Homo sapiens: one gene and its partners. The protein of the gene in region 1 purifies or fractionates together with the protein of each later gene. This does not show direct contact. Each region holds a gene or a part of one and is shown in the gene's direction. Other genes may lie near its edges.

Evidence for each region. The genes of interacting proteins can lie anywhere in the genome.
Region 2: the proteins of KRTAP19-4 (region 1) and EXOG purify together in Homo sapiens (affinity purification with mass spectrometry; one large-scale study listed by BioGRID and IntAct). This does not show direct contact.
Region 3: the proteins of KRTAP19-4 (region 1) and NLN purify together in Homo sapiens (affinity purification with mass spectrometry; one large-scale study listed by BioGRID and IntAct). This does not show direct contact.
Region 4: the proteins of KRTAP19-4 (region 1) and PLGRKT purify together in Homo sapiens (affinity purification with mass spectrometry; one large-scale study listed by BioGRID and IntAct). This does not show direct contact.

The regions. Positions count from the first base shown.
Region 1 is NC_000021.9:30,496,324-30,498,374, reverse strand, and holds KRTAP19-4 (keratin-associated protein 19-4), read left to right. Parts: upstream 1-1,209; 5' UTR 1,210-1,264; coding exon 1,265-1,519; 3' UTR 1,520-1,551; downstream 1,552-2,051. UniProt on the Homo sapiens protein: In the hair cortex, hair keratin intermediate filaments are embedded in an interfilamentous matrix, consisting of hair keratin-associated proteins (KRTAP), which are essential for the formation of a rigid and resistant hair shaft through their extensive disulfide bond cross-linking with abundant cysteine residues of hair keratins.
Region 2 is NC_000003.12:38,509,840-38,513,339, forward strand, and holds part of EXOG (nuclease EXOG, mitochondrial isoform 1 precursor), read left to right. Parts: intron 1-3,500. UniProt on the Homo sapiens protein: Endo/exonuclease with nicking activity towards supercoiled DNA, a preference for single-stranded DNA and 5'-3' exonuclease activity.
Region 3 is NC_000005.10:65,823,205-65,826,493, forward strand, and holds part of NLN (neurolysin, mitochondrial), read left to right. Parts: 3' UTR 1-3,289. UniProt on the Homo sapiens protein: Hydrolyzes oligopeptides such as neurotensin, bradykinin and dynorphin A. Acts as a regulator of cannabinoid signaling pathway by mediating degradation of hemopressin, an antagonist peptide of the cannabinoid receptor CNR1.
Region 4 is NC_000009.12:5,427,926-5,431,425, reverse strand, and holds part of PLGRKT (plasminogen receptor (KT)), read left to right. Parts: intron 1-3,500. UniProt on the Homo sapiens protein: Receptor for plasminogen. Regulates urokinase plasminogen activator-dependent and stimulates tissue-type plasminogen activator-dependent cell surface plasminogen activation.

The DNA.
Region 1 (2,051 bases):
ATCTCTAGGGAATGATATTTGCCATAATGGAACAATGGAAACATTTTGGAGATTAGAGTGTGCTTGGTGTAGGTAGTGTAAGCACATATGCAAAAATTCATCAAATTCATCACACACACACACACACACACACACACACACACACACACACACACACATACACCTTTTTCTTCTCAGGAAATACCATGCTAGTCCACTAAGTTGTTAAATGTTTATTAAGGTATAGGATATATAAAAAGATAATTTAAATATAAGGGCTCTTTGAAATTCAATAAGATACCATTAACATTAGAAATGTTTTCAGAATCTCCAAAATGTAGGTATAATATTACAAGATAACAGGCAGAAGAAATAACTGAGGGTGCAAGTCCTCAGTTGACTCCAAGAATTTAGTCACATACAGCCACAGGTGACCCCAAATATTGTTAATTCAGCTGTGCCCTTAATTTCAACTTTGAGCTTTTAAGTTCTTTTTAACCTTATATGATCTCAAATACAGTGATCAGTTATTTTTAGTCTTATAAGTAATTTCCAAATGTTGTGCTTTCACAACTGAATTTGCATGCCTCTTTGCAATAATTACCTTGTAGTAACAACACAATACATAAATGCTGAAAGGATGAATAAATTCTAAAGTCTATGCCTCTCAAAGGCATGAGTAATTCTCTGGCTACATCTGAACAATAGGGATTTAAAGATGAAATGAAGGCTGGGTGAGGTGGCTTATGCCTCTAATCTCAGCACTTTGGGGGTCGAGGGAGGAGGGTCACTTGAGCCCAGTAGCTTGAGACCAGTCTGGGCAAAATAAAGAAGACAAAGAAATGAGCTCCAATAGCATCTGACTTTAGAGGAACATATAACCTTCATTTTATTTCATTTGTAATATGCAATATGTCTAGCTATGAAGAAATCTATTTAGGATCTGGTATGCCAAGACTTTAGATACAGCAATTTCTTCTCATTAAGTGGTGTGATAACTTTTAAGGGCCACTCCAATTCAGCAACAAAGCAAACTCAAACAATTTAACGATTGTGAGGGCCTCTCCTTGTGCCAGGGAAAAATGAATGACTTGTGTTAAGTAACTAATTTAAAACACACACACAGACACACACACAACAAACAAACAAAAAAACAAAAAAAACAGGTACGCATGTGACTCATCACATACTCTTATCAGGGTATATAAGCCTCCCTCTACACGTGCTGCCATTCACACTTAGGATCTTGCCTTGAGCAGCCAAACAACTCACCACTCCTGACGCCATGAGCTACTATGGCAGCTATTACAGAGGCCTGGGCTATGGCTGTGGAGGCTTTGGTGGCCTAGGCTATGGCTATGGCTGTGGATGTGGCAGCTTCCGCAGACTGGGTTATGGCTGTGGCTTTGGAGGCAACGGATATGGCTACTGCCGCCCATCATGCTATGGAGGATATGGATTCTCAATTCTACTGAAATCCTACCCTGAGGACACGATATCAGAGGTCATAAGAAGATCATTCAATTTAACCAAATATTGAGTCAAACAAGGGCACACTAGATCAATCCAAGATGAAAAAAAATAGCATCTAAGATGTTAGGAATATTCATTATGTTATAATTGCCTATATCGTGTCTACTGGCATCCACTACCTATACTTTCCTAACTGTGTAATTGCTTAGTTCCCTTTGCAATAAATTGTCTCAATTTGAAATGGCACACATGGCTTCTGTTTATTTATTTGTCTATTTGTTTAAATGCTGACTCTCAATTCCATTGCATATTTCTTTTCTTGATGCTTCCCAATAATCTTAAAATTCTGGTCTTATATTCGTGTAACAATCACAGCTGAGTTTTGAAGATTAGTCTACTTTTCACAGTATATGCCTCTTTTTATTTAAGATTTTGATGAATCTTGAACCTCTTAATTTCTAGCATATCTAGATCTAAATAAAAGTTATTAGTAAATAATGATAAATTCAAATGGTATAAAAAATTAAGAAGCATTAGAAAGACTCAGACTTGTTTACTAAACATAAGAATAGGTTTATACAGCCAGCTAGTAAGACCCA
Region 2 (3,500 bases), on another chromosome or scaffold:
GCATACCATAGAATGTCAGTTAATAAATTTGCGAGAATGAAAGAGTTATACAAATCATTTTGCACACATCACCATAATTGATTCAGGCAAGAGTCATCACTAGCTAAAACTAGTGAGTGAATGTTTTATGAGGAATAGGGTATTTACATAATCTAAAAGTATCTCCTCATACATTATTTATTAATCACAAAGTAAGAAATAACTTTACAGTGAAGAAACATCCCATTACCCAAGTGATCAAGTTTAGTATTGCTAGTAATGGGACTTAGTGAAACGCTGTACTCCTGGTGTGATGCACTGAGCAGGATAAAATATCAGGCATACCCCAATTGAGAGACATTCTGTGAAACAGCTGACTTCTACTTTACAAAAGTGTTAGTGTCATAAAAGACAAAGGCTGAGAAACTATCTGTTCCAGATTAATAGATTAAAGAGTCATGCAAACAAAATGTGTAGTATGATCTTAGATTAGATCCTAGACCAGAAAAAAGTTGCTAAAAAGGATGTTATTGGGAGAATTGGCAACATTCGAGGTCTGTTATCTAATATACAAATTAGATAATTGTGTATTTTCAGTATTAAATTTCCTGATTTTTAAAATTGTTCTGTGATATGTAAGTAAATATCTTTGCTCTTAGGAAGTCATATCCTGAAGTGTTTAGGAGTAAAATGGTGTGCCTGTGACTTTTAAAAAGTTTAGGGAAAAGAGAAGAGAGTGATAAAGCAAATAGAACAAAATGTTAACAATTGGTAAATCTGAGTGAAGGATATAAAGGAAGGAGTTCTTTGTGCTGTTCTTACAAATGCTAAGCTTTTAATTAATTCAGAATTTTAAAATTATATATTAAATATTATATAGATATTTAAATAAAATATTAAAAGATATATTAAAATAGTTTATCAGTGAAATGATACTCAAACATGTTCAAGCTAGCCTTAAAGAGTTTCAAAAGAGACCTATCAGCTCTCCTCACCCTAGTTAGTGTCATAATGATCAGTCATGTGAGGTCAGTCAAGATCAGCTTCCTGAAGAGTATACTTTGAGTAATAGTCTTGTTTCTTGTTTTTATTTTAAAGACTTGCTGGTCTTAGGTATTCTCTTTCAGATTCTGGGCTTCTAAGGTCATATCATTAGTTTTCCATGTCTCTTATTAATTTATAGGACCTATGCATGTTCACACTGGCAAATCTTTAATTCAGTAAGTCATCCGTTCAGCAAATTTTCAAGTACCTGTCATGTGGGAGGAAGGTATACAGAATTGTAAATGGCATGCTCCAAACTTATATTCTTGATTACTTTCTTCCTCTCCTGTATTTCACATCCTGGCAGTCATCTCTCACTCTTAATTACTTTGAACCAACAACTTTTATTAATTCTCTTTTTTTAAAATAACTTTTACTTAGACATACCGAAGCTCTGAACACCTGCAGTATTGCAGAGGCCTCTAATGGGTTTCTCTGCCTCCAATTGCGTTGGCTACCAGTCTATCTGGAGTACAGAAACCATGACAGAGAAAGTATACGTTGTTACTTTCCTAATCCTCGGAACCATAAAAAAAGGAATAACATTAAAAGAACAGAAAAGGAAACTTCATTTATACTGAAATTAGGGAATGTTCACAGTCCTGTATCAAGGAATTTTTCAAATAATATCTGCAAGATAAAGTGAAATTTGGACCAAATTATAAAGGATGTTAATTTGACATGTCTCCTCTTATCAAAGCATGGGACAGGGTACTAGAATTAGTAAGGAAGTTCAGACCTACCGGTAGTAGACCACAGGAGAAATTTCTGGTGTTTAACTTGGAGCTTATCCCTTTATCTTGCAATAGTAGGAAAGGCAGGGTGGTTATAGTTGTTAAAAGCACATATTTCATGTCAGATCTGGCCTTGGATCTTTGCTTTGATACTTACTTGCATGTGGTCCTGGGAAAATGACCTAACTTCTTTAAAGTTCAGTTTTATCTGTGATATTTGGATAGTAGTAGTGTTTACCTCACCGAGTTGCTAGTATCATCGTTAGCTTGGTAGTTAGCACATAGGAAATGTTCAGTAAATATTAGCTACTATTACTCCTTTGGAGGCTAACATAAGAATGAAGACCAGTGTTTTTTGTATTCTTTGGTGCATGTACTCATAAACCTATGATTTCTAAGATTCTTTTTTACTTCTCCTTTCTTATCTACAGAAGCCCAAAAGTCAGGTGCCTCTTTATTAATTTTAAAGCACAATTTTTGTAGTCTTCTAAGTCGATGCTTTTGAGTTCATGAGTTCATGTTATGTTAGGAGTTGTGAAATTAGATACTTACATTAAACACGGTTTAGTCTTGATGCTTTTTTTTCGCTCATGGCATTAAAGTCATAACTGGCAAACTATCTTTCCTTGAAATTAAACTTGAAAAATTTTTAAATTATGCAATTATATGTGCATAATGATAAAAATGCTAAATCTTAAAACATGATTGTGGAAATATATGACATTGTAATGAAATTCAAACAGTACAAAGCAGCATGAAAAGGTAAAGTCTCACTTATACTCCTTATCCCACTGTCCAGTTTTTATTTGTTTTGGCACTTATTTCTATATCTCAGAATAATGAGCACTAAAATATATTTTTAACTTGTGACCTGTCGCTTATTAACAGTTACTTTATCTCTATAAAATTATGAAATTTATTGTTTATTTCTTGCACTGCACTATACTCTGCTAGTCATATATACTTAATTTTAGTTCTTCCGTTGGTAAACTTTGCATCATATACTTTACATAATATACTTGAACCTCTAATCTTGATCTACCATTTATACTTGTCAAGGTTTGTAGCATTTACATTTATGTTTGCTAACGATAATGTAGTCTGAGTTTTGCCTGTAGCAGAGTTTGTAAACTGAGGCCTCTTATGGCAAGTCCAGCCCATAGAGGTATTTTATTTGGCTCACATGGTATATATATATATATTTTTAAGTTTTTCATAGAGATAGGGTCTTGCTCTGTCTGCTAGGCTGGAGTGCAGTGACAAGATCGTAGCTCACTGTAACCTTTATCTTCTGGGCTTTCGAGATCTTCCCACTTCAGCCTACCAAGTAGCTACGACTACAGGCATGCACCACCATGCCCAGCTAATTTTTAAGTTTCTTTTTTGTAGAGGTGGGGGTCTCACTATGTTGCCCCAGCTGGCCTTAAATTCCTGGCCTCAAGTAGTCCTCCCACCTCCACCCCTCAAAGGGCTGGAATTAAAGGCGTGAGCCACCACACCTGACTGTATGTTATTTTTTAATTAGTTTATAATGTTTAATAATTGGGAGATTTCACATAAATCCAGATTTTAGCTTCTCTTAAATCAGATGACTCCGTAACAATTGGCATATACTCCCATAGGCAGCCAGTTTACTAGACAAGAGTATCAACCTTCTCCTTAGATTGAACACACATCTTCAAATCACTGTAGTCTTTACCTGCCCCATTTTACTCACTTACATTTCCTGTCTAGCCCTTGTTG
Region 3 (3,289 bases), on another chromosome or scaffold:
TAGATAATATGATATAAGAGGGCTAAGAATTTTTAAATTGAATCATATATATGATATAATTTGATCCTTCTTGTATCTTGAAGTTTTGTACTTGGGATTTCTGGACTGATAAATGAATCATCACATTCTTCTGGTAAATATTTTCTTGGAGCTCTGTGTCAACTTTGATCCTTTGTCTCCCAGGAAGGTGTGACCTCTCCTTTGCCTGCATACCTCAAGGCCAGGGGAATATGCCTCAGTGATGCATTTATCTTTGTATATCAGGCCGCATGATTCCCAACTTTCTGCCACACTTAAATTACGTTCCTCCATTTCAGTTTTGTCTTTTCTGTCTAAAGTTCAGTCAAAGAGTATCAAAAAATTATGTTTCAGCTAGACTGGTGTAATGTATAAGTTTTTGTATCTTGTATTAGAGGATTTCGTAGCTTTTATTAGAGGCTCATTTCCACCTCAGCATACAAGATCGTTAGTCTTTTGGCATGTGTGCCAATTAGAATACTAAAGCAAGTCCAAGCACATTTTTCTCTTCTCACGTTTCTAATAAGTGTTAGGGACTTTGCCTCTTTTACTTACCACGTCCCCAAAAGTGTCAGGTAGACATGTCACAAATGGCTCTGTAGAGAGCCATGGGAAGAGAGAGGAGGTGGATGTGGAACATAAAGGGTTCAGAAACTCCAGAAGAGGAGTGGGTTTTGGATAGAAGCATTTGAGGACAGCTGCTCCAAAGCCTTATGTGTATGATGAAACTTAACCACGGGGAAGAGACTCTTCAGTAGCCTGTTCTGTCTGGTGATTTTTATTTTAAGTGAACCTTTGGATCTATCTTTAACTCTCTTTATTGTGAGTCTAAATTCCAATTCTGCAGCAGATCAGTAAACTCACAGTATTTTTCCTGTGGAAATCTATTCAATAAGGAAACCAAGACAGGATAATAAAATTTAAAAAAAAAACAACTTTGAATTCCCCTGCCTAGGTCTTCCAGTTGTTTTCCAGCGCATACCTCAGGTATGACTTTGCTAGCCGGGGACAAAATTAGCACCTTCCGATTCTCTAGTCCAAATGAACTTTGTGCTAAATAAAAAATTATTATACTACATAATAAAGTTACAGATAGCAGGAAATGCAAGAGCTAGGAGATTCCTAGATTATATCTGCCAAGCAAATACCTTAAACATCCACCTGAAATCCTACTACCCCCTCTTCTGAGATAATTTGCCCAGCCCTTCTCTTCCCACACACTCACTCAATGTCACCCCCTTCTAATCCCCAAAACTGTTTTTGTGGTCTTTGTAGCCTATAGTAGTTTTCTCACATCTTTCCCCCTAGACTTTTCTGTTTTTCAGTTTCAGACAAAAAAACTCTTCAGCTTTTTCCAGTGTGTCTCCTTAACAGTAACTTTACCACTTGAAATCTTATTTCATAGAAAAACTAAATTGGTGTGGAAAGGCTGCACACAATAAAGTTATATTATTATCCATGAAAATGAACTCATATTTCTTTCATACTTTAACGTTAAAACCGAAATGCATGAGAGCAAAAGCACCATGGTGTTCTTTCTATTTAGGGCCTACCTCTAATATTTAAAATCTACCAAAGAGCAGTCACAAAATTAAAACTCAGCCCGGGCGCAGTGGCTCATGCCTGTAATCCCAGCACTTTGGGAGGCCAAGGCAGGAGGATCACCTGAGGTCAGAGTTCAAGACCAGCATGGTCAACATGGTGAAACCCTGTCTCTACAAAAATACAAAAAGCTGGGCATGATGTTGGGTTCCTGTAGTCCCAGCTACTTAGGAGGCTGAGGCAGGAGAATAGCTTGAACCCGGGAGGTGGAGGTTGCAGTGAGCTGAGATCATGCCATTGCACTCCAGCCTGGACGACAGAGTGAGATTCAGTCTCAAAAAAAATTAATACTCAAAGAATTATCTAGCATAATTTAAAAGAAAGGACTTTTTAAAAATTCTCTAGCATAATTCAAAAGAAAGGACTTAACTTTTTTTTTTTTAGTGTGGTCATCCGTCTAGTTGTTCTTTTTTTCCAGATCAGAGCAGAGAATATCACTGACATGCTTGAAATGGTGGATAACTATGTAAATTGTAATTGGACAAATGTACACTTTAGATTTATGGACTGAGCCACATATAATAAGGTCTCTCCTGGTAATTGATCCAGGGGATTTAGGCCTCTTTCGGGTTTTTTGTTTTTTTTTTAGGCATTGTTATGTTGTGAAGGATAAAATCTTCAACATCTTATGCAAATGGATAGTAGGCATGATCCTAAAGGTTTAGTTTTACGATGCTGCAGAGAAGAGAAATGTCTTGACGTTTTGCCACCTGATGTAGACTTTGTCCCCCTCTAGTATAAATGTTGCATGTTACCTAGATAAACAACTAAAAATTGCCTTGAGTTATCACCTGAGCTACTTATGCCAAGGTCTTGCCTTTCTAAAGCTAATAAGGTGAGAGGTGGATATCTGTAGCTCTTCGGATGAAAAATTGCATTGTGGGAGATACCAAAATTGAGGAAATAGCTCTTCAAAGAAAAATTACTGATATGATCATTGTACTTGTAAATGCCTTAAGTAGCAGGCAGTGACTCAATTTTCTACTTTACCATTTTACCTTTAGCTTTTATGTATGAATTATAGGTCTGTGGAGATTCTGCCTCCCCACTAGGCCAGTGTGTGTTTACCATTTATTCATTTTCTATCATACACAGGTGGATTAAAATTTACATTAAAATTTACATTAAAATACCATCATACTTCAGGCTTCTATAACAAAATATCAGACTGGGTGGCTTCAAAAGCAGACATTTCTTACAGTTCTGGAAGCTGGGAAGTCCCACAATCCACATGCTGGTAAATTTGGTTCGTGGTGAGGCCCCTCTTCCTCTTTTACTGACCACATCCCCAAAAGTGTCAGGTAGACATGTTACAAATAGCTCTGTAGAGAGCCATGGGAAGAGACAGGAGGCAGATGTGGAACATAAAGGGTTTAGAAACTTCTGCAGGCAGCAGTGGCAGGGAGCAAGCCCTAGAGTGTCTCTTTTTACGAGAGCAGGAATCCCATCATGAGAGTTCCTTCCTCATGACTTTATCTAAACCCAGTCACCCCCAACAAAGGCCCCACCCCCTAACCCCATCACATTGGCTGTTACGGCTTCAATGTAGGGGATGGGGCACAAACATTCAGTCCATAACGAATACTGATTCCTCAAATAGGGTTTAAACATAGTTAACTGAGCCCCCAAAGAATGTTAAAAGAGAAAATCCATTTTATTTGAATAGATG
Region 4 (3,500 bases), on another chromosome or scaffold:
AGTAGCTGGGATTGCAGGCATGCACCACCACTCCCGGCTAATTTTTGTATTTTTAATAGAGACAAGGTTTCACCATGTTGGCCAGGCTGGTCTCGAACTCCTGGCCTCAAATGATCTACTGGCCTCAGCCTCCCAAATTGCTGGAATTACAGGTATGTGTGCCTGGCCCACAAGGGTCTTTATAAGAGAAAGAAGGAAGCATGAGAGTCAGTATAAGAGAGATTTGAAGATGCTACACTGCTGGCTTTGAAGATTGTTTAAGGATCATGAGTCAAGGAATTCAGGAAGCCCCTAGAGGCTGGAAAAGGCACGGAAACAGATTATTCTTTAGAGCCTCTACAGGGATGCAGTCCTGCCAGCCCATTTTGGACTTCTGAACTTAGAACTGTAAGATAATAGATTGGTGTTGTTTTAAGCCACAGACTTCGTATAATTTGTTACTGCAGCAATAGGAAACTAACATGGAGTGTGAAACCTTAACATTGGATTTAGACGTGGCTGGATAGAAAAGATCAAAGCACTGCAGAAGATTATCTAATTGCCTAATACAGGTTGTAAAAAACATTTTAAAATGTTGCAAGTCAAAAAATCAAGTCTTAAAAGTTTGACCCGAATTATTTTCCTAAGATTTCAGACAAAGATGTCTAGGCCTCTGTGGCCCATTATGGCTCTGGGAGTAGAAAGTCCTCTGGTAAGGCATGTAGCTAGTGGTTAAAAATGAAGACTAAAGCCAGACTGCCTGAGTTTGAATCCCAGTCCCACCCTTGACTAACTGTGTGACTTGTGCCTCAGTCTCCTGATCTGTACACTGGAGGTAATAATATCCCCTTCAAAGGGATGTTTTAAAGATTAAAGATGAAATATATAGAACAATGCCTCAAGTTTTTAGAAAAATGCTTCTCACCTCATAAATATTTGTTGCTGTTGTTACTATTATTGTTTTTAATGACTGACAAGAGTGTCTTATGCAGAATAAATATCTCTTTGGGGACAATGAAACAATTGAAAGAATGGACAACTGAATTATTGTAACAGAGCAGTGACCTAGGCGAGACCAAGTATTAGGTTTACAAATCAGCCAGCTATCCGATGCTTAGCACGTCCTTGTCAAAGACCTTTGGAAACTACAGGGTTTTTACTCTTATGTTGGTCCCCATGAAGTCAGGGTCTGTGAAGGGTCTGGGATTTTACCCTACTTGCAAGCTAACGTGTTAGCCTATTACAGAAGACTGGAGACAACTACATCAGAGTCAGAGGACTTTATTACTCACAGCACAGCAAACAGCATGAGCGTGGTGGTGTTAATTCCCCATGTCCTCCAAAACTCACCGAGGTGACAAAGATGGGCACGGGCGAAATGAGTGCTATGCACTCAGTGGATTTGTGTCACAGTTGAGCAGCGTTGAGCTTAGGGAGCCTACTGCTTTTACAGTGGGCCATGAGCAAGGGGTGGGTTGTGGCAGGGGGAGAGGGTGGGAGCTACTCTCCTCGTAGTTGTTGTGTCCTGGTTGACCCACCCCAAAATGGAGATGTCAGACCTGGGAGTTACAAGCCTCCATGGGTTCATTTTTAACAAGAGCTCAGCAGCAGACCAACGATTGCGTCCCCTTTTTGAAAGGGGTGTGTTATGGGTTGAAATGTGTCTCCTGTCTCCAAATTCATATGTTGAAGCCTTAACCTATAGTACTTCAGAATGTGATCTTGTTTGGAGATAGGGTCTTTACAGAGGTAATCAAGTTAAAATGAGGTCGTTAGAATGGGCCCCAATTCAGTGTGACTGATGGCTTTATGAGAAGAAGAAATTTGGATACAAGACCATACAATTCATACTGGACTATGCATACCGGGACCATACAATGTGAATATGAAGACAGCTGTTTACAAGCCAAGGAAGGGGCCTGGAACAGATGCTTCTCTCACAGCCTTAGTAAGGAACAAACCTTGCAGACACCTTGATTTTAGATTTCTCCCCTTCAGAACAGAGACAATAAATTTCTGTTGCTTAAGCCGTCCAGTTTGTGGTCCTTTGTTATGGCAGCCCCAGCAAACTAATACAGGATGTATTTGGTGCCTGTGCCAAGCAGGTGGTGCTGCTGCACTGGGCAGTGGCCTCACTGGAGCTTCATAGTGATTTTCTTTTCCTCCCTGGGCTTCTATGTTTCTATTAGACCACCTAGAAGGGGTCTGGGAATCCCTGACTGGGGAGTCTGTTTTGGTCACTGTGAGTTTTATAATACAAGCATGTAATACATCAATGTCATTGTACATTTGTATGTAGTGGGTAGGGAGAGTGTTGACACACATCACAGTATCTTGAATTGGCTATAAAGGTCCCTTTAATTTTTTTTTACTCATTGTGAAGTTTGCTTACACTCTATCAGTTGAATTCAGTTACTTTCCCCCACCTAGTCACAATATACATGTGATCAAGCATGATGACTCACACCTGTAATCCCAGCACACTGGGAGACCATGGCAGGATGATTGCTTGAGCCCAAGAATTCAAGACCACCCTGGGCAACATAGTGAGACTTCATCTCCATTTAAAAAATTTAAAAAATTAGCCAGGCATGGTGTTACACAACTATAGTCCCAGCTACACAGGACGCTGAGGTGGGAGGATTGCTTGAGCCCAGGAAGGTCAAGGCTGCAGTGAGCTGTGATCATACCACTGTACTCCAGCCTGGTTGACAGAGCGAGACCCTATCTCAAAAAACCAAAACAATAACAATAAAAGAACAGAGACAAAAGAGTTTAACATAGGTACTTCAAGGGTGGTCGTAATAGTTTCAAGAGATTATGCTGTCTCCAGCTAGGGGAGAGGGGCAGGGAGGGCTTTTTGTCCTTTGGCTCCTCGTCCCAGAATGGGTGCTGCTTCCTGTCCTGTGTTCTCTGGCCTCTGGAGAGAATGGCCACTCAGAGCCATCATTATTTCAGCCTTTGCTGGAGCCACTGCATGGCCTTGCAGTCTTTGGAGCTCTGGGCCACCCCAGTGCTTAGCATACTTGCCTTCCCTGAGACCAAGTAGACTTTGGCACTCGTGTCCAGTCCAACAGAGCCATAAAATTTTGAGTCCTTCCCTGCCCTGAAGTTCCCCAGCATACTTCCCTAAAGCAGAGGGAGTTGGAGGAGAGGCAGGGGAGGATTGGGGACTGGAGGGAGAGAGCCACTCAGTGCCAGTAAGCAAGGCTTTGTATTTACTTTATTTCAAGTGACCTCTGCCACTGGGCTCAACAGACAAGTTTCTGACGCTTTTAGTCTACCCACAGTTCTCTACCCTCATTGTTAACACCATTTATTTCAGCTCTGGGGACCCCTAGATTCAGCAGCCATCGCCACGTCGCCTTGTTTTTTGGCTGGATCGTGGAGCTTGCTGCCCCATTGTCATTGATAACATCCTCCCTTCTCCCACCCCAGAAGGGAGTATGACACAGCCAAAGCACCATTAGGACACCTTGTTTCAACCCTACCTTTTGTTGTTCAACCACATTTAACACATA